4 separate regions of the Homo sapiens genome follow, and regions 1, 2 and 3 are each linked to region 4. The links come from fine-mapping of genetic effects on plasma protein levels. A gene starts in region 4. Each other region holds a variant in brackets. All regions are shown on one strand. Distances are from middle to middle.

What was found. A credible set is the group of variants that fine-mapping cannot tell apart. PIP is the chance, under the fine-mapping model, that this variant and not a neighbour inherited with it causes the effect. Protein levels are from the aptamer-based SomaScan assay of Sun 2018.
Region 1: its variant is the best candidate, but not a certain one, in a credible set for the plasma level of the IGDCC4 protein (Sun 2018, PIP 0.66).
Region 2: its variant is the best candidate, but not a certain one, in a credible set for the plasma level of the IGDCC4 protein (Sun 2018, PIP 0.88).
Region 3: its variant is the best candidate, but not a certain one, in a credible set for the plasma level of the IGDCC4 protein (Sun 2018, PIP 0.73). The variant lies in the coding sequence of IGDCC4. If it changes the protein, the assay may bind it differently, which can mimic a change of level.

What each region holds. Positions count from the first base shown.
Region 1 is chr15:65,403,524-65,411,523 of GRCh38, forward strand. It overlaps IGDCC4 (immunoglobulin superfamily DCC subclass member 4), which reads right to left. Exons shown (of 20, transcript NM_020962.3): 2 at 7,497-7,847; 3 at 6,655-6,796. Among named protein-coding and RNA genes, the nearest start is that of IGDCC4, 15 kb to the right of the region's middle. RefSeq lists an enhancer at 7,076-7,733. The variant TG/T (reference allele first, on the strand shown) is at 1,606.
Region 2 is chr15:65,738,967-65,746,966 of GRCh38, forward strand. DENND4A (DENN domain containing 4A) reads right to left here. Exons shown (of 33, transcript NM_001320835.1): 5 at 2,749-2,818. Among named protein-coding and RNA genes, the nearest start is that of MIR4511, 24 kb to the left of the region's middle. The variant C/A (reference allele first, on the strand shown) is at 1,822.
Region 3 is chr15:65,394,330-65,402,523 of GRCh38, forward strand. IGDCC4 (immunoglobulin superfamily DCC subclass member 4) reads right to left here. Exons shown (of 20, transcript NM_020962.3): 4 at 8,022-8,158; 5 at 6,477-6,617; 6 at 2,505-2,660; 7 at 1,421-1,834; 8 at 765-929; 9 at 82-219. Among named protein-coding and RNA genes, the nearest start is that of IGDCC3, 20 kb to the left of the region's middle. The variant C/T (reference allele first, on the strand shown) is at 6,591.
Region 4 is chr15:65,419,829-65,428,038 of GRCh38, forward strand. IGDCC4 (immunoglobulin superfamily DCC subclass member 4) reads right to left here and starts at 3,119. Exons shown (of 20, transcript NM_020962.3): 1 at 2,965-3,119. The coding sequence starts at 3,034. RefSeq lists enhancers at 2,022-2,131, 2,152-2,421, 3,397-3,931.

The sequences.
Region 1 (8,000 bases), 16 kb before region 4:
AAAACAAGCCCAAGACATAGAGGAGGTCACAACCTCCATTTTACTGGTGAAAAATAGGAGGGTATTTTCCCAGGATCTCACAGGTGGAGCAGAGTGAAAACTCGAACCCAAGTCTTCTGGTGCCAAATGTCATATTTGTCCTACCTGCCTGTCTCGGCAGCCATTGGATGGCTGAGAATGCCCTTGGAGAGGACGTGGTCTCCAAGCAGACCCAGCCAACACGTATGTTACTTAGAAGGGGCATGATGGATGAGGGTGTTCCCTGCCCTCTGGGCTAAAGAAATAGAAAGGTCCAGAGACCTTACTTGAGAAACGATGTAATCTGGGATAGGGAGGTCTCCATGGGGGTTGGGGTGGTGGAGACCAGAGTGGGCTCCGACCTAAGGAGGGGGTGAATGGGTCCCTCGGAATCCTCCAACTGGGATCCCTACAGGGTCAGCTCCAGGTTGAGAATCCTAGTTTCTCAACAGAGCAAATGGTGCTGGCCTCTGGGATGTAGGCTGGGCCAAGGTCAGAGAGGGAAGGGGGCAGTTGTGCGCTTGGTGGAGATCCCTTAGCTCCTGGGGAAGTGGGGTCTAAAAAAATCTAAACATGGAACAGGAGAAGTAGTTCAAAGGCTGGGGAGGAAGAATGTTCTAAACAGGGGCCCTACAAACCTGCTGTGGCCCAAAGACTTAAAGGACTTAGAGAAAAAAAGCATAAATATGCCCTGCTCTTTCCTGCATCACACAGGCAAACCCACCTCTGCCCCCAGCCTCTCACCCTCAGCTCCAACAGCTGCCTACATAAGTGCTGGGGCAGAGCGAGAGAAAGGGACAGGGAGACAAGTGTGGCTGGAGCAAAATCCTGGGCCAGGACCCAGTCTGCTGCCAGAGAAGAACTGACAGGAAAGGACGAATTGGGGAAGGACAAGTAGGACCCACCTAGAAAACAGGCCCCACCCCCATCCATCTAACGTGCTCTTCCTCCAAGACCTTTCTTTCTCCTCTTTTCCTCCCTCGAACTAGCGAGCTGACTATGCTGCTGGGAACTGCCTACATTTCCTAACCCCAGTGTTTCTAGGTCTTTCCAGGGAATATTGTGCTCCAAGTACTCAAGAGGTAGTCTCTCCTTTGAAAAAATAACATTCCCTTAATGATGTGATTGAGTGAATGAATGAATGAATGAACAAATTAATGAATGAATGAATTCCTTTCCCCAGATATGGTGCTATTGCTGCAGCCAATAGAGGCAAGATGGAACCACTTTTAGGGTTCATCTAAAATCTTTTCTGGCCGGGCTTTTTGGGAGGCAGAGGCAGGAGGATTGCTTGAGGCCAGGAGTTGGAGACCAGCCTGGGCAACATGGCAAAACCCAGTCTCTACAAAAAATACAAAAATTAGCCAAGGCATGGTGGTGCACATCTGTAGTTCCAGCTATTCAGGAGGCTGAAGTGGGGAGATTGCTTGAGACCGGGAGGTAGAGGCTGCAGTGAGCAGTGATTGTGCCACCGCACTCCAACCTGGGTGGCAGAGTGAGTCCCTGACTCAAAAAAATCTTTTGCTTTGCTAAAATGTGTTTTTAGAAGCTCTGTCCTTGGAAAAGTGTTCAAAATATATTAGTTAG[TG/T]GGGGGGGGGGAGTAAAAAAACAGTGTTTATGAAGAAATTCTACTTTTAGAAAATAGAGAAAAGTTATATTAGGATATACATAGAAAAAGCCACAGGTGGCAAAGCTCGTGTGGTTTATGGGGGTTTTCTGTAGGAGTGAGATTACGGGGGATTCTTATTTATTGTGCCTGTTAAGTGGGTTTTTTTTTTTTGCAATTAATATGTATCAGTTAGGAAATATAAAAATTTTTAAATGTAAATTGCTAATAATCTGTGCCCTTGTACACTTTGGTTTGTAACTTGGGCTCTAACACAGAAGCACTGTGACATGCTGGAGAGAACTGGTTTCAATGTATGTGATTTTAGCAAGTGACATTCTGTATCTGGGCCACAGTTTTCTCATTTGAAAAATGGGTTAAATAATTCCTGTCCTGCCTTCTTCACAACCCTGACCCTCTTATTGTGTTTTGAGCTCACATTAGATAACGGACATAAACATATTTATGAATTGCAAGCTCTGAACACATGTTTACAATGGTGTAACCCATATACGTATTTCAAAAGACTGCAAGGAGACGCTCAAATTGGTAAAAGCTGTGTTCAGTCAGTAGGTGACTTTTTTCCCCTTTCTGTAAAGTTGGTATACTCTACCATTTTAAGAGAAATTCAAATTTCAAATAAAATAAAAGCTACTTATAAAATGAAAAACAATCTCAACTCGAAAGGAAGGGATGATTCTTTTTCCAGCCTCAAACCTGAGTCTGCTGCTCCTACCCACAAAAGGCCACTTGGGCCCCGAGGATTAAAGAACACAGAAGAAATGACGCAGCTGCTCTGAATTTCCCAAGGGCCAAGGAGCCCCCACCCTAAGCCCTTGAGATCCACCCAGGGCAAGGGGATACTGGCTGGAAGTCACATGAGATTGACAGAAATGGTAACCACTGGGAGAGGGTAGGGCCGGAGCCCATGTTATTTAAGTCCCTTAGTTCCATGTTTCTTAAAATGTGAGTGAATGGCGATAACAAAATGATTTCAAGTGGATCCAGATACATGGCTTTTTATCCTAGAAGTTACATTATTTATTTTTATGGCTATCTTCTATTTATGGCAAGTGTTGCTGGTTTTCCATTTTATTGCAGTGAGATAATGTTCCCTTTTAAAATGTGTTCAAGTTACGAAAGAGCGAGTTGATGTAAAGAAAATTATGAAGTGGTTGTGTAAATGGTATAAGTATGGTCACAATTATGAAGGTGGTTTTTGAATACCTGGGATTTGGGAAACATTGCTCTCATTGATTACTAGTTCCCATGAAAGAAAAATTATCCCCTAGATTATCCCCTATTATTAGAAAATAGTATGAGTACCGGGGATTTGCCTTGGGGTCTAGTCTTTACCATCAGTTCCAAACGAAGCACATACACCCTGACGCAGTGTGTTTATTAACTGCACATGTGCCACGTTACACCAAGGCATACGGTCTCCTTCAAACCACTGGGCTGAGTTTATGAATAGCATATTTGTGCATGCACTATATCTGGGCATGTGTAAAAATACATACCTTGGGCATAATCAAGTTGCTGTTTTAGACATTTCTTTATTCCCCCCACACAATGTGCCGGGACATGCGAGCCTAGCTTATTTATAGATGAGGATCACTTTTCAGAGGACTTGGGGGCAAACACTCCCAGAGTCCAAAAACTGGCAGCTCTGGCCTCCTGGGTTAGGTTTGTGGCTTCACGGGATGACGCCTGAGCTAGACGTTGGGGGTGGTGGGGAGGTCTGAAACCCACTGGTGTGCTGAGAAGCTTTGGGGAAGTAACTTCTCTGCTCCCAGCCACAGTTGGACTACAGATTTCTAAATCCACCATTAATTTTTTAAAAAATTAAAGTTGTAATGTGATACAAACTTCTTCAGACCTCACAGGTTCCGCACCCAGCCACCAAATGACACCTACCAGAGGCCTGTGTATCCTCCACGCAGGTCGCTGGAGTCTGACACTCTGAGTACTAAGCTGTGTGACCTGGGGCAAGTTATTTCTGCCTCTGATCCTCCAATCCCTCATTTAACAATCCAGATAAAAATACCTACCATATCCATATGTACAGACCTGGAAGGATGTTTATCAAGTGGTAAGTGAAAAAAAAATTAAAATTGCAACATAATCCCATTTTTGTTTTTGAAAAAAAAAAAAGATGATTCAACAAAAAACCTAGTATGTACAATATAATTTATTATTATTATTATTATTCTGAGACGGAGTCTTCCTCTGTCACCCAGGCTGGAGTGCAATGGTGTGATCTTGGCTTACTGCAACCTCTACCTTCTGGGTTCAAGCGATTCTCCTGCCTCAGCCTCCTGAGTAGCTGGGTTTATAGGCGCCTGCCACCATGTCCAGCTAATTTTTGTAATTTTGGTACAGACGGGGTTTCACCATGTTGGCCAGGCTGGTCTTGAACTCCTGACCTCAGATGATCCACCTACCTCAGCCCCCCAAAGTGCTGGGATTACAGGCGTGAGCCACTGCACCTGGCCTAAGTTTTGTATTTTCATTCCAGCCTGGGTGACAGGTGAAGTGGCTCAATTTTGGCTCACTGCAAGCTCCACCTCCCGGGTTCAAGTGATTCTCCTGCCTCAGCCTCCTGAGTAGCTGGGATTACAGGCATGCGTCACCACGCCTGGATAATTTTTGTATTTTTTTTTTTTTTAGTAGAGATAGGGTTTCACCATGTTGGTCAGGCTGGTCTCGAACTCCTGACCTTGTGATCCGCCCGCCTCAGCCTCCCAAAGTGCTGGGATTACAGGCGTGAGCCACCGCGCCCGGCCTAAGTTTTGTATTTTTTGAGAGATGACATTTCACCATATTGCCCAGGTTGGTCTCTAACTCCTGAGCTCAAGCGATCCGCCCGCCTTGGCTCCCAAAGTGTTGGGAGTACAGGCGTGAGTCACCGCGCCCAGCCATATTGATATGAATTTTAAAAATGCATCTGCTGGAATATCAATTAAAAGTAAATAGAGGAAAATGTGAAAATAAGAAATACCTACATTAAAGGATGATTGGAAGGGTTAAGTGAGAAAACATGTAAAAGGCTCAGCACGTGCCTGGCCCAAGGTACACTCCCATTAAGTGGTTCATGTTGTGACTTTCAACATGGGGAGATTTTGCTGCCTTCTGCTACCCTCTCTGGGGGGCATCAGGAGTAGGCTCTCGCGTGGTTCTCTCCTGCCTAGCTCATCTGTTCTGGGTTCATGGAACTCCCAGGAGGCACCCATCATCACACAGTGGTGACAGGCTCCACATTTAGAAAGGCACAGAACTTCAAATGTCAGTGTTAGAAAGGCTGGGTCAGCATTTCCCAGGGTTCACCCTCTAGAATGCTCATTCATGGGATGTTAAGGGGCTCCTGGGCAAACGAGCCTAGGAAGTGCTTCGTTAAACAAGGTCAACAGGATTCTCGATACAGCACTTCTCAGGGCCTTGCCAACTCCAGGAGGGAGATTTACAGGCAGTTTCCTGTTCTTATTTGATCATAGAATACTTCATTCAAGAAGCATTTAAAGGGACTAACATTCTATAAAGGCCACGCTTTGGGAAACCACAATCTAAATCAATTTTCATTTGTTTCCCCCTTTCATTTTATAGGTGGGAAGGAGAATAGACTGGGTGAGAAGTGACTCTCTGAGGACCAGTGGGGCTAACCCATCACCAAAGTCAACAGGATGTCTCTCTCTTTTTTTTTTTTTTTTTTTGAGACAGGGTCTCGGTGTGTCACCCAGGCTGGCTGGAATGCAGTGGCATTATTCCAGCTCACTGTAGCCTGAACCTCCAAGTGATCTCGCTCAGCCTTCCAAGTAGCGGGGACCACAGGCACCACACTGCCACACTGGGCTAATTTTTGTATTGTTTTATAGAAACTGGGTTTTGATATTTTGCATAGGCTGGTCTTGAACTCCTGGGCTCAAGTGATCCTCCTGCTTCGTCCTCCCAAAAGGTTGGGATTACAGGCATGAGTCACCACACCCAGCCAGGATCTCTTATGTATGGACCTCTCACCCTCTTCCTCCCTCACAACTGTCCTGTGGCTTTTCTACCCCGAAGTTTCTCCTACAACCCCCATCCTTACCTACACATGGGCAAAAGTCAGAGGAGCTGGGACAATGCAACACAGGCAACAGAAGGTTGGATCCAGGGGAGAAAGGGCAGTGTTTCAGAGCCCAAGGAGCCCCACCTCCACCAGGACGGGAGAAGGATCTAGCTGGTAACTACAGCTACCGAGATATAGGGAGAGGACTGCAGGGTGGCTGGGAAAGGCCTTGGAGCCACATTTCCAAAGATACGTAAGAATCCAGGGGGTGATGACTGAGTCATGAGACCAACTCAGAGACCACAGATGCAAATGAGCCTTGTGGTTTCTGGTACGCTGCATACACATCTGGACCTACCCAGGAAGCCACAAGAGGGACCAAGTCCAAGGTCTAGCCTCTGCTTCCCTTCCGCCTTGGAAACTCTTCCCTGGGATTGCTCTACCCATCCATTGCCTTTACAGGGAAAGAGGAGAGTGAAAGAGGAAAGACCTCTACAATTCACTTCTCAGAGGGCTACGCCCCACTGGATGGAATTGAGAGAGGAAGAGAAGTTATGCATCTAGAGTGGAAACTCCGGAGGAACCCTGAAAAGAGAAAACCTTCCCAGCAGCCTCGGGGAGCCCTCAACAGACAACCAACATTCTGCCAATGGCTCATGGTACGGCTTGGGATAAGCCACAGCTCCTCTCTGGCCTTCAGTCTCCACAATAAAGCAAGTGGTTGGACTAGATGTGCTGGGAAGGACTCTACTACTACACCTACCCAGGCTCCACAGCTCAATGGGTGGCTTCCTCCCAGGGAGCAAAAACTTCTTGTCCAACTTCTCTTTGGGACTAGACATGAGCCAGGAGTCAGGCGGTGGTTAACACTCAAGTCAGCTTAGGTAAATGCAGCTACCTCGACTCTAAGAATCTCAGTTCTGAGCACACCCCAGAGCCCTCTCTGCCCTGCCTACCAGGACCCGCTCCCCTACAGGGCACTCACCGAGGCTCCTCAGGCAATGTCACCTGGTCCTTCTCCCAAGTAATGATGGGAGCTGGCAGCCCTTCAATGTGGCACTCAAAGCGAGCTGTCCCGTTCTCCTCCACCGTCTGAGACTCCGGGTGCAGAGAGAAGTCTGCGAGTGCTGGGGACAGTGAGACACAGGCAGGGACGGGAAAAGAATAGGAGAGAGAAGCCACAGCAAGCACAAACAGTGAAACACATCCGCATGGAGACACAGAAACACACAGTCACAGAAACACACAGCAGAGCCAATTCAGACCGAGGGAGACACAACAAGAAGTGGTGATTAGCGGTCAGATACTGCCAGCAGAATGAATTCCAAAGCCCCCCTGCCCAACATCATCATGATGGTCAAACTATACAGTAAGATGCACACTTCTTCTGGCCTGAAAGTTACTTCATGGTGATCTGTGCCTCCTGAGAGCCCCCTAAGGGGTAAGGCTGGAGCGTGGGGTTTGGCTCCACATGTTCCACCTGCCGTGCAGGCAGGAGCTCCCTTAGGAGGCAGCTTTGTGCCTCTGACACAAAGGGGGCACTCTGGCAGGCTCCCTGGAGGACAGCACAAGCCCAGACTCTAGGACTCAAAGGGAAAGAAAAGCAGAAGGAACAGGGGAGTGGAGAAGAAGCGGGAAGATTATGGAATACCCAAGAATGAGGATAGACAATACCAGGAAGAGACCTATTGAGCAGGATGGGAGGCAGGGAAAGGGGGAGTGGGATCAAGAGAGAGGCATTTGTGCAAGTAACTAACTGCAGATCCCACTTCGCACACCCCAAGTCTGGGTTTCAGCCTCAGACCCCCGCCCGATGCAAGCACTTACTGGCAAGCTTGACGACAGCAGTCTGGCTGGCCAGCACTCCGAGGGGGCCGTGGGCTAGGCACGAATAGTTGCCTTCAATGACCCCCACAGCCTCAGGGACTGACTCGTCACTGCCATTGGGTGCTAGTGGCTGGGACAGCCACAGGGAACCATTGGGCAGCAGGTGTAAGTGGTCGTGCTCCAGCAGGGTGTCCCCATCCTTGCTCCAGGTCACCCTGGTGGGGGGTCCAGCGGCAGCAGCCCCCAGGCTACAGTTTAGCACTGCAGCCTGCTCTGGGCCCAGGATCACTTGCAGTGGCCCCACTCCACAGCTCAGCTCCACAGTCGTCTCCTGGGGCAACAGCAGCTCCCCTGCATAGAGGAGGAGCACGGGGCCATCAGTGTATGTCCCCCCACCTCCCACAGCCTCTGCTCCTGAGTCACCCATGCAGGGGCTGGGGCAAATCAAGGAGAAACACCTGCATCTGGATCCTGGCTCTCCCCTTACTAACTGTGACCTTGGAC
Region 2 (8,000 bases), 320 kb after region 4:
ATTTGGAATGCCAAAGCATTATATATATGTTCATCAAATAACACTGAATACTTTGGTAGGATTCATAGAGATTTTAATCCTTGAACATTACAACTATTAACTAACTGCTTAATATTTATCAAGCTTCATCTATAAAGGCTATGTTAAAGCTAACAAGAAAAAGATATCCTATAGAAATGCACAAACATACTCCTAAAAATTCAGCTTGTGGTCACACTACCTTAGAAAGAATACTAAGTTTTTGAAATTTTCAATATGGTTTATTTTCATCTATCTACTTCATCAGCTCTCAATAACTTTTACACATTAAAATTCATATCCCATAGGAGTATATGTTAATTTCTAGCACAAATACAGGAAAATTTTTCATAAAAATAGAAGAGTCACATATTTACAATGTCTTAGGAATAGTATCAACTCAAGCTCAGCTTCTAAATAACACCAGGTTATATGAAGATAGAGTTTTAAGTTGCCTATGATTTCACATTAGGTAAACTAATGTTTACATTAGGAAAACGGTCCAGGCATCTTCCACTGAATACACTCCAGGAAGAACCTTGTACCTCATTTTGTGGAACTAGAAACAGAAAATAGGTTCCCTGGCCATAAAGCCCTTAAAGTCAAGTAGAAACTATCACTAGACAGCCACAAAGACAAAAAGATAAACTGGGGGAATATAAGTGGTTGTTGGTTCTGCCACTAATATATCTGTGGCTTTGGACAAATGACATACTACAGGAGTATGGTTTTCTCATCTATAAAATCAGATGAAGTAGATAAACTAAGGTCCAAGGCAGTTCTAAAATTATTTAATTACATGCTAGCCAGCAAGTAGGTCCCATGAGGATCTATAGTTAACTCTGTACTACTCTCTCAGGTCATGAGGTAATTAATAAAGTCATAAAGTAAGTATAGAAATAGTGATGAAGGCCGGCTGGGCGTGGTGGCTCATGCCTGTAATCCTAGCACTTTGGGAGGCCGAGGCGGACAGATTGCCTGAACTCAGGAGTTCAAGACCAGCCTGGACAACACGGTGAAACCCCATCTCTACTAAAATACAAGAAATTAGCCAGGTGTGGCTGTGTGTGCCTGTAGTCCCAGCTACTCGGGAGGCTGAGGCAGGAGAATTGCTTGAACTCGGGAGGCGGAGGTTGCAGTGAGCCAAGATCGTGCCACTGCACTCCAGCCTTTCAATGGTTGCACCCATTGGTAAACAAAATAGAGGAACGGATTCTGGTAGTGAGAATGACTCATAATCTTCTTGAGGATATCCACAAATTAGGCCTAGGGCAACACAGTGAGATTCCATCTCCCAAAAAAAAAAAAAGAAAGAAAAAAAAAGAAATATTGATGAGAGCCAGTAGCCAGCACAGCAGCTCACGCCTGTAATCTCAGCACTTTGGGAGGCTGAAGTGGAAGGATCACTTGAGCGAAGGAGTTCAAGAGCAACCTGGGCAATACAGCAAGACTCCATCTCTACTAAAAAAAAAAAAAAAAAAATTAGCCAGGCACGGTGGCACATGCCACCATGTACTCTCGGTAGTCTCAGCTACTTGGGAGGCTGATGTGGGAGGACTGCTTGAGCCCAGGAGTTCAAGGTTGCAGTGAACTATGATCCCACGACTGCACTCTAGACTAGGCAACAGAGCAAAACCTTGTCTTTAAAAGAAAAAAAAAAAAAGGTGATAAATTGTAGATCTAAAAATATCAAAGGCCGGGTATGGTGGCCCTCACCTGTAATCCCATCACTTTAGGAGGCTGAGGCAAGAGGAGCGCTTGAGCCCAAGAGTTTAAGACCAACCTGGGCAACCTAAGAAAGAC[C/A]CTGTCTCTACAAAAATTTAAAAAATTAGCCAGGCATGCTGGGACACTCCTATAGTCCAAGGTACTAGGGAGACTGAGGCAAGAGGATACCTTGAGCACAAGAGTCTGAGGTTGCAGTGAGCTACAATCATACCACTGTACTCCAGCCTGAGCAACCGAATGAGACCCCGTACCCCCCCCAAAAAAAATCAAATGTAAAAGAGAAACTTGAGTCTAGAACTCTAAACACACACGTATATAAATGTATATGTATATATGTATATATTTTTAAAGATGGGGTCTATGTTGCCCAGGCTGGTATATATGTATATATTTTTAAAGATGGGGTCTATGTTGCCCAGGCTGGTCTTGAACTCCTGGGCTCAAGCAATCCTCCTGCCTCAGCCTCCGAAAAAACTGGAACCACAGGCACATGCCACCATGCCCTGCATAAAAGCAATTTTTAAAAGGCTGAATCTGTTCTCTTGTAAATAAGGTCACTATGTTTGGTATTTTGAGGTCTCTGAAAATTGGACATTTTGACTATGGATTATAAAACTCCAAATTGGTTTATAATATTTTCCATTATTATGAAACATGATTTCATGTGAACTACAGCTCTTACTAAATTTAAGTATTAAAGAAATATTAATTTAAAATGAAAATACATTTTACCATATTTCTGCTGATTTAAAAACTTAAAGATAATTGAGATCTTATTATTTATTTAAACCCAAGGCTTAAAATAAAAACTCACCTTATTTTAAAATTAATCTTCCATCAAGCATCCAATAAACATATAAGTGAAGACAAAAATGAGAATCAGAAGATACGGATTGTAGTCCCAGTCCTGATACTAACACAGACTAGGCAGGTTTCTTTACTTTAACCTTTCCGGGCCCTATAATACATTTATATATGAAGTATTGCATGAAAAATTACACTTACCAGCTTTGTAAGATACAGTGTTCGTCTTTGCCACCGATTTTTTATAACACAAGTATACTGCTGATCCCCACTGGATTTAAAAAAATAGAAATATCATTTAATTTTTAAAAGGTAGGAACTTGATAAAATGGAATCTCTTTGAGCTCTCTAGTATGTATTATCTAATATGTAGTAACAAATTTCCCTCTGCTAGCTATTTTCAGTTGGCTGTTTTGTCAATATTTTATTGGAATCACTGTCCACTTTTCTTTCAGAAGTAAATTACTACTTTTTTCCCCTTGCAACAGCAATAACATGAGGAAAACTTGACTCTTTTAAACAAAGCTAAGTCACAACCATTTAGATTTTATTCTGAGTCCAAACTGTGGGTATAAATGATAAACTATAAAGTATCTACTCAAGTGCATACCTTTGACTCCACAATCTGTTTCAGATATTGCCAGGTTTTTCTGCAATCCTTTATGCCTCAAGAGTTGTAATTTGTTAAGTCCACTTCCTTATTTCCTACTTTCTCCCAAATTCATTTCCAATCAGGCTTTAATTACCACTCCTTAAAAGAATAACTTAACTTTCAAATCTTTTTTTTTTAAATGGAGTCTCGCTCTGTCACCCAGGCTGGAGTGCAGTGGTGCGATCTTGGCTCACTGCAATCTCTGCCTCCTGGGTTCAAGTGATTCTCATGCCTCAGTCTCCCAAGTAGCTGGGATTACAGGCACGTGCCACCATGACTGGCTGATTTTTTTTTTTTTTTTTGAGATAGAGTCGCAATGGTGCAATCTCAGCTCACTGCAACCTCCGCCTCCCAGGTTCAAGTGATTCTCCTGCCTCAGCCTCCTGGAGTAGCTGGGATTACAGGAACATGCCACCATGCCCGGCCAATTTTTGTATTTTTAGTAGAGATGGGGTTTCACCATGTTGGCCATGGTGTTGGCCAGGCTGGTCTCGAACTCCTGACCTCAGGTGATCTGTCCGCCTCGGCCTCCCAAAGTGTTGGGATTACAGGCGTGAGCCACTGTGCCCAGCCTCTTTTTATTCTTAAGATTATTTATCATTACATGCTATATTTGTTTGTTTATTGTCTTTCTGACTTGAATATATGCTCAATGAGGGTAGGGATTTTGTTTTCTTCACCACTGTACTCCCAGAGGCTCACACATAGTAGTTAAATAAGTTTTACTAAATAAATATATACATAATTTATTTAAAAGTTTTGAAATAAGGGTAAAATAGTTTTATGAAACACATTCCTTACACAATCCATGCACATGAAGAAGTGTAATGTCATTGATAATTAAAAGGAGTATATAATAAGTTTTTATTATTACAATTTAACGTGATTTGTACAACTCCACCCCTAGTACCCTGGATTGCAATAATCTCCCAAACGGTCTTCCTCCTTCCACCTTTGCTTCCCGCCACAGTCTATCACTACATAAACGAGTGATCCTTTTAAATCAAATGTCAGAGCATGTCACTATTCTGTTCAAAATCTCAGTCTCTCTCAGAATAAAAGCTAAAGTCCTTACAATCACCTAAAGGCCCTAATCATCTACCCCCAATTCCAATCTCTTTATTCTCCCCATAATTTATTCTGCTTTAAGACACACCATTTTCCTTATTGTTCCTAAAACATGCCAGGAATGGTCCCTCCTTGAGGCCTTTTGCACAGACTGTTCCCTATATTTCAAACATTCTTTGCCTGTGATATCTGAATGATTAACTTCCTTACTGCCTTCAAATATTACTTTCAAATAAGGGCTTCCCTGACCACTCAATTTAAAATTGCAACCCATTCCCCTCTACTCCCAATCCCCTTTTATGATACTTTTAGGTTTTCTTTTTTACTACAGCACTTAACACTTTCTAACATACTATACTTTAAAAGTTATTTGTTTAAAATTTATTATCATCTATTTTCCTCCACTCTGATAAGTTCTACATTCTGTTATCATTAATACCTAAAACAGTGCCTGGTGCATTACAGGTACTCCATAAAGTATTTGCTGAATGAATTAATCTTGGAGCAGAGGTTTCTAGGTAGAAGGAATGTCAAGAGGAAAGGCCCTGATACAAAAGTATGCCCGTCATGACCTAAGAGCTAAAGAGGCAATGACAGCAGAGAAGAGTAAATGAAATACTGATGGGAGATAAGGAAGCCAGATCATGTGGGTCCTTTTAGGCTGTTTTAAGGATTTTGGCTTCTATTACTCTTGGAGATAGTGAAAGCCACTGGAGGGTTTTGAGCAGAAGAGAGGCATTATCTGACATACAGTTAAAAGGTCACTCTGAGTACTATGTTGAGAAGTGGGGGTGGGAGACAAGGAAGAAAGCAAGTACTCATAATTATTTTGTATCAGTAATCCAGGCAAAAATTATGAGAGTTTGAATAAGGGTAGCAACAGTGGGAATGATGAAAAGAGGTCAGATTCTGGGTATATTCTGAAAATACAGACAAAAAAAAATCCTATCTGATTATATGAAGTACAGTATAAGAGTCAAAGATGATGCCAATGCCTGAGTAACAGGAAGGAAGAAACTCAATTGAGATGGAGAAGACTGTGGATAAAGCAGGTTTGGGGTGAAGATAAGGGGTTCAGTTTTAGACATGTTAAGTTTGAAACATCTATTAGACATCCAAGTGAAGAACTAAATAGAGCTAAGGTAAGCGGTCTGAAATGGACACACAAACTTGAGAGAGGTCACCATTTGATGTATAGGTGATGAGAGAAATTTACATGGCACACTTCCTCACCTCCATGGGGTATCAACTCAAACATCATCTTATCAGAGAGTCTTCCTTTCACCATTTTACATATAATAACAAGGCTCCCTCCACCCTGCCCAGTCCTCCCCATCACCCCTCTCTTGCATTTTTTTTCCTCCTTAGCATGTATCACCATTTGGTGTATTATATATTTTCTTAACTATTATCTGAATACAAAAAAGTTTACTTACATAAGACTAAGTAAACATTAGTGGGTAGCTCTGAGAGACTCATAAAGTATAAGCTTTTAGTGTCTGAACTTTGTATCTATTTTGAATGTACAGAAGCCTTTTTGTTGGCTTGTTTCTCATGTAATCCTTTCAAGAATTAAATAAGAATTGTACTTGAGTCATTTCTGAATAAAAAATGCATTATATACCTGTCAAAAGCCAGGTGACAAGAGGTGACAAGTAGTTACTTAAAGGTAACGACTAAAACTTTGGAAAAATATCAGTATTACAGAAAATACAGACAAGTTACATAAGTATTTTCATGTAAGAAGCCAAGTGTCTGAATATAAATTATTTTCCAACTTTGGTTTCTCTGATATTTAGTTCACACTCACTTAATCAAGTTCTCATTTAGATGTACTTAAAAATCTGATGAATAACAATGAGAAGATATCATAAATAGCACTATATGATCATTTAATAATATTTTATCAAGAAATGACAATCTCCTGAGTATTCAAAAACATAAATCTTTGCTTTTCAACTTTAAGTATCTGTCAGCCTTCCAAATACTGAATAGCTAACAGCATAATGTGGTCAAACTAAAGTGAAAGAGAATAATATTCAAATATCTCTCTTATTTAAAACACACAATACACATAAAATAATATGTCTGGCTATCTGCAAATATCTTACTAAAAAATAAAAACCCTTAACCTTTTATTTTAATATAGTTTAATGAATTATGTTGAGATTGTAGCCTTGGGAAATTTTCTCTTGATGGAAAAATATTAAAGCATTTATAAAAATAAAATCCCAACACAGCAATGAACATAAGCAACATTTAACACACTAATCTACTGGAAAAATATTTTTTAAGTCACATGAATATGTAAAAGTCAAGCAGATATTATGAATATAGGCAAACAAATTTTGGTTTATCAAATGGATAAAAAAAATTTTATAAAAATGGGCTCTCTATTGGAAAGTCCCAACTCTACTTCCCAATAAATCCAATTTGTAAAGATAGCAAGAAAACTTCAATAATAACTTTGGTGACAATAAAAAAAGAACTATATGACCATTTGGATATAGTAGAAACCAAAAGGAATATTCTATAATGAAAAACAAGGAGTTAGAAATGCAGTATAAGTTACGGGGCTCTGTAGGAAAGAGAACCATGGATATTAAAATTAAGAGCGGGGCCAGGCATGGTGGCTCATGCCTGTAATCCCAGCACTTTGGAAGGCCGAGGTGGGCGGATCACCTGAGGCCAGGAGTTTGAGACCGGCCTGGCCAACATGGTGAAACCCCGTCTCTACCAAAAAAAAAAAATACAAAAATTAGCAGGATGTGGTGGCGGGCACCCTTAATCCCAGCTACGCAGGAGGCTGAGGCAGGAGAATCCCTTGAACCCAGGAGGCGGAGGTTGCGGTGTGCAGAGATCATACCATCGCACTCCAGCCTGGGCGACAAGAGTGAAACTCCGTCTCAAAAAAAAAAAAAAGGAATTAAAAGCATTTTCCAAATTTTTTTACACACAAGGTTCAAGGTGAAAAAAGAAGGAGGCATTGTTCTAAAACTACTTTAAACTCTCTACCAATAAGTATCCACATTGTGGTTTGCCACAGCAAAAACGTACTTTCAAATTCTTCCTCTTTCCCCCAGAATTAGGTACATGATTTAATTACTTCCCTTGTTAACAATTCTACTTTTTTCTCTTTTTTTTTTTTTTTTTTTTTTTTTTTTTTTTTTTGAGACGGAGTCTCGTTCTGTCACGCAGACTGTAGTGCAGTGGCATGATCTCGGCTCACTGCAACCTCTGCCTCCCAGGTTAAAGCAATTCTCCTGCCTCAGCCTCCCGAGTAGCTGGGATTACAGGTGTGCACTACCAGGCCTGGCTAATTTTTGTATTTTAGTAGAGACAGGGTTTCAGCATGTTGGCCAGGCTGGTCACGAACTCCTGACCTCAAGTGATCCAACTGCCTCAGCCTCCCAAAGTGTTGGGATTACAGGTCACAGCACCCGGCTCAATTCTACTTTTCTAAGTAAACTCGCTAAATCAAATGCTGACATTCTTGGACAGTTGTAAAACAAGAGCCATGTGGAAAGAGTATTTAAAAAATACCCTTAAGGAGACTCAGCCAGGTGCAGTGGCTCACATCTGTAATCCCAGCACTTTGGGAGGCCGAGGCAGGCGGATCACTTGAGATCAGAAGACCAGCCTGGCCAATATGGTAAAACCCTGTTCTCTACTAAAAAAATGGTAAAACCCTGTCTCTACTAAAAAAAAAAAAAAATACAAAAAATGGCCGGGC
Region 3 (8,194 bases), 26 kb before region 4:
TGCTCAGGTCTCCAGCAGCCCTGACAGCTCTTCACGTTGATCATTCCCATACATGCCTGCAGCCCACCCACCCCCACTCACCTTCCTTTCCCAAACCGTATTCTATCTTGTACTTCACCACCTGCCCATTGCTCAGGCTGGGGGGCAGGGGCAGCCACGCCACCCTGATGTCCGAAGGGTTGGGGCTGGACAGGGAGAGCTGGGGTGCTGCACTGGGGACTGAGACAGAAGAACATCAGCATGAGCTCTGCTCCACCGACGTGGAAGGTGAGGCTCGGGAGCGGTCAGAGACTTGCCTGGGTCACACAGCAAGTCAGAAGTAGGCCAGGACCAGGATCTGAGGGAGGAAAGGGAGCTTCTCAGGGGAGCCCCAAGCTGAAGGATGAGGGGACATCTTTCCCACCCTGAAGCTGGAAAAAGTCTTGGAGCACAATCTTCCACGTCTAATGGGTTAATGTCACTGGCCCCTACCCCAGCTGGATGGCACATAGGTGTCAGGGAGAACTGCATGACACAGGGAATCATCACAGACCTGGGCTTAAGTCCCAGCTGAACTACTGACCTGGGCAAATCATTCTCATTTTCTGGGCCTCAGTTTCCCCAACTGTGAACTGAGGAGAAGAACCCCGCCCACTCTCTTACGGGGCACAAAAGATGATATGAGCAGGTAAAAATGCCTTTACATTAGTAAAGAGAGGGTGAGCTCCCCTCCCCAGGGAATTCTCTTTACCCCAAGCTGCCCACTGCGAGTTCAGAGGCCCTACCATCATCCAGTGTGTGCACCAGTGCTGGGGTGGAGGTGCGGCTGGCTCCCAGCTGGGAGTAGGCCACCACGTAGAACTCATAATCTGTGTTGGGTTCCAGGTCCCGAACCTGTAGTTCTGTGGTGTCGTTGTTCACTGCAAACTGGTATTCCACATTGTCCATGCCTGGTGACACGGGGGACAAGGGGACTGTCATAGTGCCACCCCCCCGTGCTGGCTAGCTGGAGTCTGTATAGGAATCCTTCATATTGTCCTGGTGTCTATTTATAGCTAAATCATCCCAGATAATCTGAGCTGGAGTGTATAAACTCCCTCAGCTTCCTGTCTCAGTGTATTAATTCCTCCACTGGTTAGGGAGTGCTTTCTGGAAATGACCCCCCTCTCCAGTTAGTTAACTGGGATGGGAGGTGGCTCCAGGAACGTCCTCTCCCTCCTCTCTCAACAAACATGACTGAGGGAAGCAGTGGCCCTTCCAGCGCCAGTTGCCTAATCCATACCTACCATACTTATGCGGGTCTCTCCTATGGGCTCCTACCCCAGTCCATCCTTGCCGCAGAGGTACCCATCAGGCAACCCTTCAGTCATCCGACCTGAACCCCTTCTGGCTGCGCCCCGCCCGGGCCTGCGCTGGTGCATCCCGCCCCAGGCCGACGTACCCCGTGCCTTCTGGTAGTGGAGAGAGAAGCCGATGATCTGCTCGCTGTGCATCTCGGGCCGCTCCCAGGCCACCAACACAGCGGAGCTGCTCAGTGGCGTAGCAGTGACCCGCGTGGGGGCGCTGGGCAGCCCCTCGCGCACCACCACGGCCAGCGACGCGGCAGCGCACGCCATTCCCGCGCTGTTCTCAGCCACGCACTGGTAGTAGCCGGCGTCCTGCAGGCCGATCTGTGTGATGACCAGGCTGCCACCGCCGCCCTGGACCTTGACGCGCCCGTTGGGCCGCAGCGGCGCCCCGTTGTGCAGCCAGCGCAGCGCTGGCCGCGGCTCCCCCGACGCGCGGCACACGAAGCGCGCTGTGCTCGCCCGCGTCCGCGACAGCGCCTCGGGCGCCTGAGTGATGGCGGGAGCCGCTAGGGGCGCGAGGGGCGACGCTGAGCGCGGGATCCCGCAACTAAGGTCTCTGCCCCCCCCCCAGTACCCCAAGCCTGCCCCCCACCGCCCTCCCTCGCTCCCCTTCCAATCACTTTAACCTCTCCCTGATTCACCCTTTCCAAACTACTCCGGCTCAGCGCAGACCTACCCTTTCTTCTCCCCATTTACCCCAGCCCCACAACGACCATTCTCTTTCTCTCCCAAAACTGTCCCCAGGCCTCCTCAGCCTCCCCTAAATATTGCTCCTCCCGGATCTAACCCCACCCCTAAATTTACCCATCTCCTTCCTCCCTGCCCTCCCATATGTCCCACACCTACCAGATCTACCCTGCCCCCCAGTTTTCTTAGTACCACTCAGATCACTCCACTATCCCCACAATAACCCCAGTCACAACTCCCCGCTAATCACCCGCTCCAGGCCTTAATCACCCCTCTCGCTCCATCCCAGACTCAACGCCCCGCACTCCGTCCTCCAGTTACCAAGTCCCCATCCCTCGTCCCACCTCCGCCTTACTAGGGACTCCTCCCTGAGTTCGTCCTCCAGGAGAGCGCCTGAGTGCCCCCAGCACACCCACCCGTCCACCTCCCCCTGCTCTATTCACCCCAGCCCCAGCTAACCCGCTCCCTCCGCCCTTCGGCCCGCCTCACCCAGCACACGGAGCTCAGCGGCTGCAGTGGCGAAGTCGCGCGTGCGGGGCTTGTTGGCGCGGCAGACATAGACGCCGGAGTGCCAGGGCTGCGCGTTGGCAATTAGTAGGTTGGTGCGGCCCAGGACGATGACATCTGTGGAGATGGGCTTCCCGTCTGGGGAAGGAGAGGGAGACGCGCTGGAGGGGACGCTAGGGACTGCCCTTCCCTTCAGTCTCCGAACCTCAGGAACACTCTGCACCCGGATAAAGCAAACACAACCGTCCCTGGTCCGAATCTCATTTCCTCCTCTTGCTGGGACTCTCTGAGCCCGGCTGTCTCCATCTGTAAGGGGGAATTAGCCCTTAACTGGCAGGGTTTCCATGAGGATTGAAAGAATGTCAGAACCCCTGGCACAGTGCAGGCATATATTAATCATAGGTGCTCAGCACACTCGTCAGTTTTCATTACTGAATTCATTTCTCTCAAGAAGGACATGCTCCTTCCCTGGGGTCCCAGCCCAGTACTATGATGAAGCTAGGGCTGGTAAGGTCGGACCAAGCCAACGATTCGAATGCGCACAAAGTTTTACCTCAATGTGAAATGAAAACCATTTAAAAAGCCCTTGCCTTGTAGACATGAACAGAAAATCTAGAGAAGCAATGCAAATAGCCAAGAAACACAAAAATGTTCAACTTCATGTCATCAAAGAAAGGCACTTCAAAACAGATGTTAGGCTGGGCACGGTGGCTCATGCCTGTGCTCTTGGCACTTTGGGAGGCTGAGGTGGAAGGATCACTTGAGACCAGGAGTTCAAGACCAGCCTGGGCAACATAGTGAGACTCCGTCTCTATAAAAAAAAAAAAAAAAAGATATTAAAACACAGATGTTAATTTTCACCCATCAACTTGAGAACATTTTTAAAAATAGTAAATTGCAATGCTGGAGAAAGGGCCATAAAGGAGCTTCACCTAGGCCTTGAAGCCAAGGATTCCATTTATGTGTACCTGTCCTAGGAAGATGATCAGAAGTACAGGCAAGTATTTGTGAACAGAGCAGATCACTGCAGTGTTAACTGTAACAGCGGATAACTGGAAAGGACTTAAAAATCCAACAGCAGGAACTGGTGAATTACATTATAGCTATATTTAAAGTATGGAATATTAGTCATTACAATTTTTTGAAAAAGTTTTAAAGATAGAGAAATGCTTATGGTATACTGTTGAATGAAAATAGGACTTGGAACTATAAATGCGGCACATGTTCTCAATTTCAGGGAGAAAACTGTACATAGGCATAGAAAAACCTGAAAGAAGATATACTGGTACATAAACAATTTTTATCTCTGAGTAGTGGAGTGTTTGAGTGTTTTCTGCATCTATTTTTTTCCTAGTTTTCTACGGTGAACATGTACAACATTTGCAGTCAGAAAACAAAACAGCCGGACACAGTGGCTCACACCTGTAATCCCAGCACTTTGGGAGGCCAAGGCGGGTGGATCACTTGAGGTCAGGAGTTCGAAACCAGACTGGCTAACATGGCAAAACCCCATCTCTACTAAAAACACAAAAATTAGCCGAGTGTGGTGGTGCATGCCTGTAATCCCAGCTACTCGGGAAGCTGAGACAGGAGAATCACTTGAACCCAGGAGGCGAAGGTTGCAGTAAGCCAAGATCACACCACTGCACTCCAGCCTGGGAAACAGAGCAAAACTCCATCTCAAAAAAAAAAAAAAAAAAAAAAAGAAAGAAAAGAAAAGAGAGAGAGAGAAAGAAAACAAAACAGGCCGGGAGCGGTGGCTCCTGTCTGTAATCCCAGCACTTTGGGAGGCCAAGGTGGGCGGATCACGAGGTTGGATCACGAGGTCAGGAGATGGAGACCATCCTGGCTGACACGGTGAAACCCAGTCTCTACTAAAAATACAAACCATTAGCCAGGCGTGGTGGCGGGTGCCTGTAGTCCCAGCTACTTGGGAAGCTGAGGCAGGAGAATCGCTTGAACCGGGAGGCGGAAGTTGCAGTGAGCAGAGATCGCGCCACTGCACTCCAGCCCGGGCGACAGAGCGAGACTCTGTCTCAAAAAAACAAAACAAAACAAAATCAAAAACAAACAACCCATGCCCCTTCCCTGACTTAGTGGAGTAAGTTCCTGGAAAGAAAGCAGTACTTGGGGTCAGGAATGAAGCTCCTTTCCAGCCCTTCTCTTCCTAGGTGTCAGGATCCTCCGGGACAGCAATTCTCAAATCCGTACTGTGCACACGAATCACAGATTAGCAGGGGACCTTGTTAAGATGTAGAGGACTGAGGCAGGGCCCCAGATTCTGCATTTCTAACTAGTCATAGGTAGTAGAGCTGAAGAGCACACTTTCAGTTGGAGCACCGGGCGCAGTGACTCATGGCTGTAATCCCAGCACCTTGGGAGGCCAAAATGGGTGGGTTGTTTAAGCCCAGGAGTTTGAGACCTGCCTGCGCAACATCTAGAAACCCTGTCTCTACAAAAAAATACAGGCATAGCGGCACATGCCTGTAGTCCCAGCTACTCAGAAGGCTGAGGTAGGAGATCACCTGAGCCGGCAAAAGTTGGAGGCTGCAGTAAGCTGTGATTACACCATTGCACTCCAGCCTGGGTGACAGGCAAAAAAAAAAAAAAAAAAAAAAAAGATTCCTGGAACACGACTCTCCGGGGTGAAGAAAGGAGTCTGCAGTTTTAATAAGTCCCCTGGGTAACCCTGATGCATAATCAGGAATTAAGAAATATTGACATTAGAACTTCTAGGTGATACCACAAGTTTATCCCAGTAGTACAAGGGTCCTGCTGGCCCCCTAAGTAGGCAAGTGTCACAGGTCCAATGAGGCAGTGCAGGTCAGATAGGTGCGAAAATGCCAGCACTGTTCTATTTTATCAGCTCATTGGTGGGTACATATTAATAGTTGTTCAATTTATTTTCTTTAAACTATATATATTCGTGATATACACTTTTGAGTATGAGATATAAACTTATATTTTTAAAGATGTATAGAGTAATAGAATGAGTTGGGGAAAGGGGTAAAAAGAACTGGATTTAAAACTTACTTCTGCCATCAACTTGGGACAAGTCACTTTTTAACAACAAATGGAAATAAAAATAACCCTTGCTTTCTTTTTACAGGACTGTAGGAACTGGCATACCAAAAAGAGAACAGACTTGAAAGCTTGGGTCCCAGCTCTTCCACTGCCTCTCTGAGCCTCAGTTTCTTCATCTGCCCACTGGGAATAATAGTTCTGGCCCCTCCTCTCCCCAGAGGGCTCTTGGAGGCTGACAGGAGAACAGGTGTGAAAGTGCTTAGGAGACTGCACAGTGAAATTTGGCCCAGCACTGGCGTTACCCTGATGGCATCTCCAGTCACTCAGTGGCACTTCTCACTTGTAGCCTGATACTGTCAGACCTCTCTTCATAGATGTGTGTTTTCTCTCCCTCACTAGACGATGAGTTCAGAGGGCAGGGTCCCTGCCTCTCTGTGTTTTGTTCACTGTGCCCAGTATGATACCAGTCACACAAAGACAGCAGTATGCTGGGGTGGACCCAGAGCTTGCCTTATAGTTGCACGGACCAACAGAGGGGTCTGGTTCCACCTAACTCACTGGCTGTGTGGCACCTTCCCAGCTCTCAAGTACTCACTTGTAACACCGTTGTGAGGAACAGAAATATGTAATTATGGTGGAGAACCTAGCTCAGCACCTGGCCTCAGGAGGGCTGCAATAACCGTTCTGTAAGTGGCAGCTTGGAAGTGCTTTTGTAAAGCACATGCTACACAGAGTGACAAGGAAGTCTGTCCAGTTCCCCACGCAGCTCCGACCTTGACCACCACACCCAGCCCTGGGAAAGGAGTTCGTGCCACACCAGAAGGTTCGTGACCACTGGGTCGTCACCCATACATCCCCCTGACTTAGGGGCATGTGAGATGCCACATCCCTCCCTTCCCATGCCCTCCTTCTCCCACCCCCTCCACTCACCTTGTCGGACCCAGGACACAAAAGGGGTGGGGTCAGCTGAGGCCACACATTCCATCACCACACTCTGGCCAGACACCACTGTGGTGTTCTCTGGGGCTGCCACAATGACCACGT[C/T]CTGCCCCCTGGTGGACGCCAGGGACCCTGGCGAGAAGACAGACCAGCAGGCAGCCTTACCATTAGGCATTTGCCATGCGATACCTCACCTGAGTCTCACAGTAACCTGGTGAGGTGGTACCGGGGACAGCAGCAATGATTCCATCTGTCAGATGGGGGACGTAGCCATAAAATTCAGCAGGGCTGGGACTGGACCTCTGAGCTGTTTCTTTTAGAGCCAGAAGAATTGCCTAGGCTTCAACTCAGCACCAGAGAAATGATTAGACAGACCCACACCTACCTCCATTCTTCCCTCCCAAATGCAACCCACCATCTAGGCAGAGGACTGTCAGGGTCATGGGCAAAGCACCAGACTTGGAGTCAACAGTTATAGTTTCTAGTTCCAGCACTGCCATTAACGCACTGGGTGACCTTTGGCAAATCCCTTCTCCAAAAGGCCTTGGATTTCCCAGTGGAAAAGGCAGACAGTGGGCTTGAGTTTCTGCCTGTGCGGCAGTTCCCTAAACCCTGATTTCCTGCCAAGTTCTTTGTGTGACCCTGGCCCCCTGGGTGGAGTGGTGAATATCTGGATTGTCCAGCAGGTGGAGGCAGATACCCCTTGAACAGAAGAAAGACGACACCAGACTGGGAGCAGCCTACCAGCTAAGCCCAGAAGGAACAGGATGGGGACGGGGTGGGAGTGCAGAGAGTGGGTGGGAGGTGGGAGGGATGCATGGCAAAGGGAAGCAAGGGAGGTGCCCCTGGGGGAGGCTTGAAGTGAGATCTGTTGAGCACCTGCCAGGTGCCAGGCACTTTCCATTCTTATCTCAAGGACTCTTCGAGCCTCTCTGAGCTGGGCATTTGATAAGGAGCCCAGGGTCATGCAGATGGTGAGCAGAGAAGGCAGGATTCAAACCAGGTCTTTCCAACCCCAAAGACTGTGCCCTTCCTAATCCATCACACTGGGGCAAGAGCTTTTCAAAGAAACGAGTAAAGGATAAGAGCACTAGGCCACAGGTAGCCAGATTTGCAAGGCACAGAAAGCAGAGAGGGACGAACCCCCAGTGCCTGGACCCCTCAGTGACTATAGAAGGGCAGGAGAGAAAGGGGCAGGGAGCAGGGCTTCCGGGCACTGACACCGCCTCAGATGCCTCGCATCCCCACCTCTGTCCCCAGCCTTCGACACTGCATCCAACCAGAGGGCACACAGGCTCTGCATGAAGAGAGGAGCCCTGCCCTTGGAGTCTGGGGTCTTGTGTTCCAGCCCAGTTCTTTCTTCTCTGGTTTGCTGGGTGGCAGTACCCTCTCTGGGCTTCATCGCCTCACCAGTCAATGGGACTAACATTTATCACCTACTTGAAGGCAAGGCCTGGACCCCTTGAGGTCCCTCCCAGCTCTGAGGTGGCTGGTTCCAGAAACCCCCAGGTTTCCCCACCCAGCCAGCCCCCTTACCTCTGTGGGCCACACTGAGTAGGGCCTCCTGGCTGAAGTGCTGGCGAGCTGAGTTGGTGGCCACGCAGCGGTAGGGGCCTGCATCACTCTCCTGAACATCCAGGATCTGAAGGACGCCGTTGGGAAGCACGATGAGCCTTGGGAAGAGGGGAGCAGGCAACTGTGAGGTGGGC
Region 4 (8,210 bases):
GTTCACAAAGGGGTCCCAGTCCCTGACTCAAGAACAGTGTTGGGAGGAGATGGGCAGGCACAGGCATTATCCTAACCCCAATACCAGCCCTTCATTCTGCCTCATGTTTTTTTGTTGTTGTTGTGTTTGTTTTTTTGAGACAGAGTCTCACTTTGTCGCCCAGGCTGGAGTGCAGTGGCGTGATCTCAGCTCACTGCAACCTTCACCTCCCAGGTTCAAACGATTCTCGAGTCTCAGACTCCCGAGTAGCTGGGATTACAGGCATGCACCACCACACCTGGCCAACTTTTGTATTTTTAGTAGAGATGGGGTTTCACCATGTTGGCCAGGCTGGTGTTGAACTCCTGACTTCACGTGATCCGCCCGCCTTGGCCTCCCAAAGTGCTGGGATTACAGGCGTGAGCCACCGCACCCGGCCTATTTCTTACTTTCCTCTCTCTCGCCCCCTACAAATTCAATCTATCCTCAAGTTCTACTGATTCTATTTCCTGAAAATCTCTGGAATGCAGCCACTCCAGCCCAACCCCAACTGCCACTATGCTAGCTGCCACCATCCTCTCTTCTGGATTGCTACAACAGCCTCGAAGGAGCTGGAGCTTCCTGCCTCCAGCCCCACCCAATCCATCCTCCACACTGGCTGGAATGAGATGATGCAAAGCTGATTTTAAATCCTGTCAAGGGCTCATGGGGACTCTCAGGCCAGAAACCTTGGTGGGCCCTGTAAAGCCCTTTGTGAGCTGGATCTAGCTCCCCTCTTCAGCCTCCTGTCTTGATACTCCCTGACCCCTTTCCATGCTTCCCTCACCTGCCCCCCATCCACCCCTTGTCCCTAAACTCCAGCTAGATTTAGTTTAATCCAATGATCTCAACTAAATCACCTCTGAACTTTGCACATGCTGTTCTCTGGAAAACTGTCCCCATCATCATTCTCCTTCTACAGGGCTAACTCCATGTCGAGCTCTACTACTCATCACTTTCTTCAGGAAGCTTTTGCTGACCTTCCCAGATCGGTGTAGGAGCCCCTCCTTCCTGCGTCTTCCCCAGCACTTCAGGGGACTTGTCAGTTTCCCCCTCCACCAGACTGAAAGCTTTGCACCAGGGATCAGGTCTGCCTCCTTATTTACTATATTCTAGGCACTAGGCACAAGCTAGCCTATAAAAGGTGCTCCATAAATATTTGTTGAACGAATGAATGACCTCAGTACAGATCAGGGTGGCTAGTCATGACTCGACTGGAGTGTCCCCCGGCCTGCTGAGATTTGGAGGACCAGGGCAAGCTGTTGTAGCCACTCACACTGCAACCAAGAGACGCCGCAACTCGGTCCCTCGCCTGCTTTGTGCGTTCGGGAGCAGGGAGAGGCCAGGGAAGCTGGGTCCCTCGCGGCAGGTCCTAAAGGTATTGAATAATGCGCCGGTGCGGTTCCCAGCCCTGATGCCGTTTAGCTGGGTGACCCTGAGCTCGTTCCAGGAGCCCTAGGAATAGCGGAAGGTGGGGCAGGGGAACTATTCCTTAATCCCCTGAGCTCTGGGAAGACAGACCTCTCTCTGACACTTCCCCGCCCCTTTCACCTGACAAGCCAGGGCCTCCAGCTCCTCTGGCCCAGCAGCCGAGACCCAGCCTCGCGGCGGCCTCCAGCTTAATCCGCTGTTGGGGCTGGAAAGGGGCGTGTCTTTGTAGGGACAGAAGGGGTCCGAGGAGTTCCCGGCACTTTCCCACCCGCTGTTTGGTTTTCCTGGAGATGGGCCTGGGGCTGGCCAGGCGGAGGCTCCTTCCCCCCGCCTCCCTCCCACGTGGCCTGGCTGAGTCTCTCTGGAAAGCCGCAGCAGCTGGAGAGAAATCCCCCTCCCCACCCCCACCTCCAAGTCCCTCCCCGACTCTCCCCGGACACATCCTCAGCTCCCCCCTCCGCGGGGAAGGCAAGAACTAGGCGAACAAAGCGGCCAGCCCATCCCCCTCCCAGCCCTGCCACCTACACTCCCCATGAGCCGCCCCCAAACGCACACCGGACAGGAAGCGACAGAGCTGTGGGTGGAAGCCGCAGCCCTAGACACACACCCTTGGGGACTTCGCTATCCCCTCCCCAGCCCTTTCTCCAGCTTGGACAACTCTGACTTACCCCGTACCCACTCCGCACTGGGCTGCGGACTGGATGAGGCCCTGCTGACCTCGTCCACGCTTCCCTGGTCGGTCCCTGGGGGGTGGGGCCGGGGTGACACGCGTCCCATCGTGAGAACAAGCGCTGGACATGTCCACGAAAGCAAATGGTTTCCTGCCCCCTCCCCCAGTCCACTGCTGGCCACAGGTTTTGGGGAGCAACACCTCCCTCTACCCCTCTCTAACCGGCCCCAGGGACCACACCCACTGGGCAAAGTTGAGTGTTGTTTTATCACCACCACCCCCAGTCAAACGGGATCCATCGCTCTGTCCCCCACTATGGGCAAGGACACTTCCCAAATGCCAAGGCCAAATATTAGCTCAGCCCCATAAACACAATTGCACACGCACCCGACCCAAATGGAGGTGCAGACACAACCCCAGTTCCCTCCTCTTTTACACACACTCTCAACCCAAGACACGCGCAGGCAAGGCAGAGCCCGCCCCGCGAAAGCCACCGACACCGCAGCTACCCGCCCCGCCGATGCCACGCCGCGACCATGGCACGCACTGCGGACACGACAGGAGCACTCCCAACACACACACACACACACACACACACACACACACACACGACTCCAGACTCTGCGAACCAAAGGCACACACCCACTGCGGACAAGCACGCCCCACAAACGCCCCCCGGCCGCAGCTCGCAGACCCCCGCGCAGGCATCGCGGGCACCTGGACGCGCAGCCCCCGCACTTGCTCGGGACTCCGGCTTGAGCCAGCCCCGCAGCCCGATGCAGACCAGGGCGCGGGCGCACCAGCACTCCGCAGTCGCTCCTGCCTCTCCGGGCGCCCGCCCTTACCGCGCGCGGCCAACAGGCAGAAGGTCAACGCGAGGAGCCCGCGGCCGCGGCCGGCGTCCCCCCGCGCCATGGGGCTGGGCTCGGGCCGCCGCCGCCGCCGCCGCCTCCCCGTGCTTCGGCCGCCGCCGCGGGGGGAGAGCGCGCCGGGCGTCAGTGGCCCGGGGAGGCGCGGCGCCGCGGGCGGGGGCGCGGCCTCGGGGGCCCGGGCCCGAGCTGGGGCCGGCGCGGGGGCCAGGGCCGCTGCCGCCTCACCCGCCCCTCCATCGCCATCTTGGGCGAGCGGCCCGGGAGGGGGCGCCCGGCGAGTGTGGCCACCCTGGCCCCGCCGGGGACCCTGCGCCCGCGCGCCACGGCCCTGCGCCTCGCGGGGGCTCCTCTCGGCCCGGGTCTGTGTCCCGGTGCCTCGCCCTCTCCGGGTCGCCGCGGGCCCCCGTGAGGCCGCCTGTTGCTGGGTCTGTCTCTTAGTCTCCCCGTCTCTGAGTCTTCTGGTCTCTCTGCCTCAGCGTCTCTATTTCTTCTCCCTGTTGCTGCCTCGGGGTCTCCACCTCCGTTCCAGGCTCAGGGGAGGCAGATTCAGGGCCACGGTCTTTGTCCAGATGGCCCCCTTGCCACCCGAGCCCAGTCCATTCCAGCCCAGGTCCTGGCCTGAATGCTGGTTCGCTTCTCCACACGTTGCGCCAGCCCACCTGCGGAGATCTTGATAGTCCTATCTGCCATCCCAAACCAAGGGCTTCTCTTGGCCTCCTTCCCTTGCTCTGGCAGTAACTAACACAGGCAGGACACTTTTACACTACCTTCAAGCACTACCATATTCAGATGTCGCCGCATGGGGAAACTGAGGCTGGAGAAGGTGAAGTGACTTGCCCAAGGACAGGAGGCTAGGGAGCAGCAGATACAGGACCTGAACCTTGGTTTTCTGACTTCGGAAGGTCATCTCCACTCCCTCACCCTGCCTCTGCTGTCCAGCATTTACTGAAGTACCCTTTTTCTCATTCTTCAACGGTACTTTCTCTAACCTACCTAGCCAGACTGTTTGCCTCAGTATCCCGCAAATATTTCTTGTTCTACAGCCAAGGGTTCAATTGTCAGGCTAGGGTGGGGAAAAGAGTACAGATTCAATGACCTAGTTAAGGTCCTTTCCAACTCCAAGATGCCATAGTTCTTCCCTTCCCTGTGTCTCTAAGTGTTCCTGTGACTTAGAGCCATCTTGTCTCTACACCTGTCTGTTGTCAGTTAACCCTCAATAATCACTGGCGCTTTGCATATCTAACAGGCCTGGCGTTTATTCATTCATTGCCACGCCCCATCTTCACTTGCCCTATCAGCAGCATTTGACTTAGTGAATCACTCCCTCTTCCTTGAAACACTTGCTTCCCTTAGTGATCTCATCTGGTCCTCAAGGCTTTAAAGAGCATCTTTATGCTAATGATGCCCAAATGTATACTTTCAGCCTAGACCATCTTTCCTGAACCCTGGACTTCTGTATCCAGCCATCCAGGCCCCAGTTCCTTTAGCTGTCTAGTAGACAAACTCATCCTGATCTTTTCTATCAATCTTTCTCCTCCCACAGTCTTCCTCATCTCAGTTCCTTTCCTGTTGCCCAGGTCAAAAATGTAGAGGCCAGGCTTGGTGGCTTACGCCTGTAATCCCAGCACTTTGGGAGGCCGAGGTGGGAGGATCGCTTGAGGCCAGGAGTTCAAGACCAACCTGGCCAGCATAGCGAGACCCCCATTTCTATTAAAAAAAAATGTAGAGTCATCTCCTACTCTTCATGTTCAGATGCTTCACCCTCCACTTTCTCACTGTGGCCTTGGTCCAAGACCCGTCGCCTCTCACCTGGATTGTCACAGCAAACTCCTCACTGATCTTTTTCTGTCCTTGTCCTCCTTGAGTGTTTTCTCAATACAGCAGCCAGAGTGCTCCTGTTAAAATGAGATCATGCCACTTCTCTGCTAGAAACCCACCAGCGGCTCCTATGTCAGAGCAAAAGCCAAAGTCCTTATTGTGACCCACAAGGCCTATCTGATCTGTAGGCTTGCTCTACCTCTCTGACCTCCCCTTCGACACCACCCCCTGTGCTCACCACCTCTCCAGCCACACCATCCTCCTTGCTGTAACTTGATCGCGGGCAGCCTCCTCCCCTCCAGCCTCAAGACCTTTGTCCGGCCAGTGCAAGTCTAGAGATCTGTTCCCTCATACTGGATACCATAAAGGCTTTCTCACAGCCTCACCCCCTACTCTTCCTATCCTCCTTCCCTGCTGTCTATTCTTGTCTTTAACTGTCACTTTCTTTTTTATTTTATTTTCTTTCTTTTTCTCTTCTTTTTTTTTTTTTTTTGAGACAGAGTCTTACTCTGTCCCCCAGGCTGGAGGGCAGTGGCTCACTGCAACCTCCGCCTCCTGGGTTCAAGTGATTCTTGGGTCTCAGCCTCTCAAGTAGCTAGGACTACATGCCCAGCTAACTTTTTGTACTTTTAATAGAGACGGGGTTTCATCATTTGGTCAGGCTGGTCTCGAACTCCTGACCTCAAGTGATCCACCTGCCTTGGATCCCAAAGTGTTGGGATTACAGGCGTGAGCCAGCACGCCTGGCCAACACTTGTCACTTTCTTTTTTTCTTTCTTTTTTTTTTTGAGATAGAGTCTTGCTCTGTCGCCCAGGCTGGAGTGCAGTGACACGATCTCAGCGCAGTGCAACCTCCGCCTCCTGGTTTCAAGAGATTCTCCTGCCTCAGCCTCCCGAGTAGCTGTGACTACAGGTGCCTGCCACCATGCCCGACTAATTTTTTGTATTTTTAGTAGAGACGGGGTTTCACCATGTTGGCCAAGCTAGTCTTGAACTCCTGACCTCAGGTGATCCACCTGCCTCGGCCTTCCAAAGTGCTGGGATTACAGGCATGAGCCACTGCGCCCGGCCAACACTTGTAACTTACTAATATGCTCTACATTTTACTTATTTTCGATCTGTTCCCCCACCCCTCACAATCACAATGTGTGCTTCATGAGGACAGGGATTTTTGTTTGCTAGGTTCACTGCTGAATGCTAAGCACCTAAATCAGTATCTCACACTGTGTAGGTGCCAGGGGACCTGGATAAAAAATACAAGTCCCTGCCCACAAGGATAGTAGTGTCCTAAGTGGCATGGGGTGGCAGGGAGGATGGAACAAAAGGAGGAGGGATTTACCGTGTGTGGGGTGGGGGGACATGGAGGTTGAGAAGGAAGGCTTCACAGAACTATTGATTGGACAAGTGTGATACGGTCTGTGATGGGGTACAGGGAGGAGGAGCACTCGGGCCAGACCTGTGGATGTTTGACATGGGTCTGGACAATTTAAAAGGCTAGAACTGACAGGGTGGTCAAGAAACTCCCTCTGCAGAGGCCCTGGGCTGTGAGAGCACAGGGAAGTGTGCTCTTCCTGCCTGGAAATGGCATATCCAATCATTGATTCAAGGGGTACCTGTTATGGGTCAGGCCCTGCTCTGGGCACTGGGAGCAGACTGGCGAACAAGAGGAATCTTGCCTGAATGGTGCTTAGGCTACTGAGGGAGATGGACAAGTGTGATACAGTCTGTGATGGGGTACAGGGAAGAGGGGCACTCGGGCCAGACCTGGGGGAAGCAGAGAAGTCTTACAGGAAAGACAATGTAAGCAGAGTGCAGGAGGTGTGGACTGGGCAGGGGAGCAGGGGCAGGACATGAAGCCAAACAGGGAGGCCAGGGCCAGATGGACTGGCCTCATATGTTATCTAGAAAGCAATTGATTTGTCAATTGAATGAATGAACAAGGTGTTGCCATATAGAGAGACTAATTCTACCAGCCACATACAAAAATCTAATTAATTTATCTATATTCATATCTCACTACATGGGCTCTGGGTAGGGAGTAAATGTGAGAGGAGGAGGGATAGAGTTACAGGTTCAGGCCAGCCAAGCCCAGCAGGAGTAAGAACCATAGTTCTTGTCCTGCCTTGGTTACAGACTTGCTGCATGACCTTGGGCAACTTCCATCCTCTCTCTGGGCCTCAGTTTCATCACTGAGACAAAAGGGTTGGGGTATGATGCACATTTCTAACCAGTTCCAAAGAGTTCACAACATTAAAAGTGGATATAGCACCTGTTTTAATGTGTTTTTAAAAATCAATCAGGCTGGGCATGGTGGCTGGCACATGCCTGTAATCCCAGCACTTTGGAAGGCTGAGGCGAGCGGATCACCTGAGGTCAGGAGTTCGACACCAGCCTGACCAATATGATGAAACCCCGTCTCTACTAAAAATACAAAAATTAGCCAGGCGTGGTGGCACATGCCTGTAATCCCAGCTACTCGGGAGGCTGAGACAGGAGAATCGCTTGAACCCGGGAGGCAGAGGTTGCAGTGAGCCAAGATGGCACTATTGCACTCCAGCCTGGGTAACAAGAGCTAAACTCTGTCTCAAAAAAAAAAAATCAATAATAAAATATTCTATTATTTTCCTCTTTCAGCTGGTAACATGGAAAGCTTCCAAGGGTGTATGGGGTGTTCCAGGGTGGTGGTTAGTGGAGGGTCGAGGAACATGCTCAGATAAACATGGTTCACTGTCATGGTTTTTATCATTAAACAGCTTTAACTTATTTTCATACTTGGTCATTTATACACTGTTTAATTTATAGCCATGTGGGACCATAAAAAATATATGACAGGCCGGGTATGGTGGCTCACGCCTGTAATCCCAGCCCTTTGGGAGGCCAAGGCAGGCAGATCTCTTGAAATCAGGAGTTCAAGACCAGCTTGGGCAAAATGGTGAAACCCCGTCTCTACAAAAATACAAAAAAATTAGCTGGGTGTGGTGGTGTGTGCCTGTAGTCCCAGCTACTTGGGAGGCTGAGGTGGGAGGATTGCTTGAGCCTGGGAGGCAGAGGTTGCAATGAGTCAAGATTTCACTACTGCACTCCAGCCTGGGTAACAGAATGAGACCCTGTCTCAGAAAAAATAAACAAACAAATAAAACAAAACTCAGTCACTGACAGGTCAAAAACCAAATTTATTTTTCGTTAGTTTGTTTGAGACAGGGTCTTGCTCTGTTTCCCAGACTGAAGTGTAGTGGCATGATCACAGCTCACCGCAGCCTCAACCTCCTGGGCTCCAGCAATCCTCCCACCTCAGCAGCCCCCAAGCAGTGGTAGGTGCTACCACACCTGGCTAATTTTGATATTTTTTTGTAGAGGTGGGGTTTCGTCAGATTGTCCAGGCTGGTCCCAAACTCCTGAGC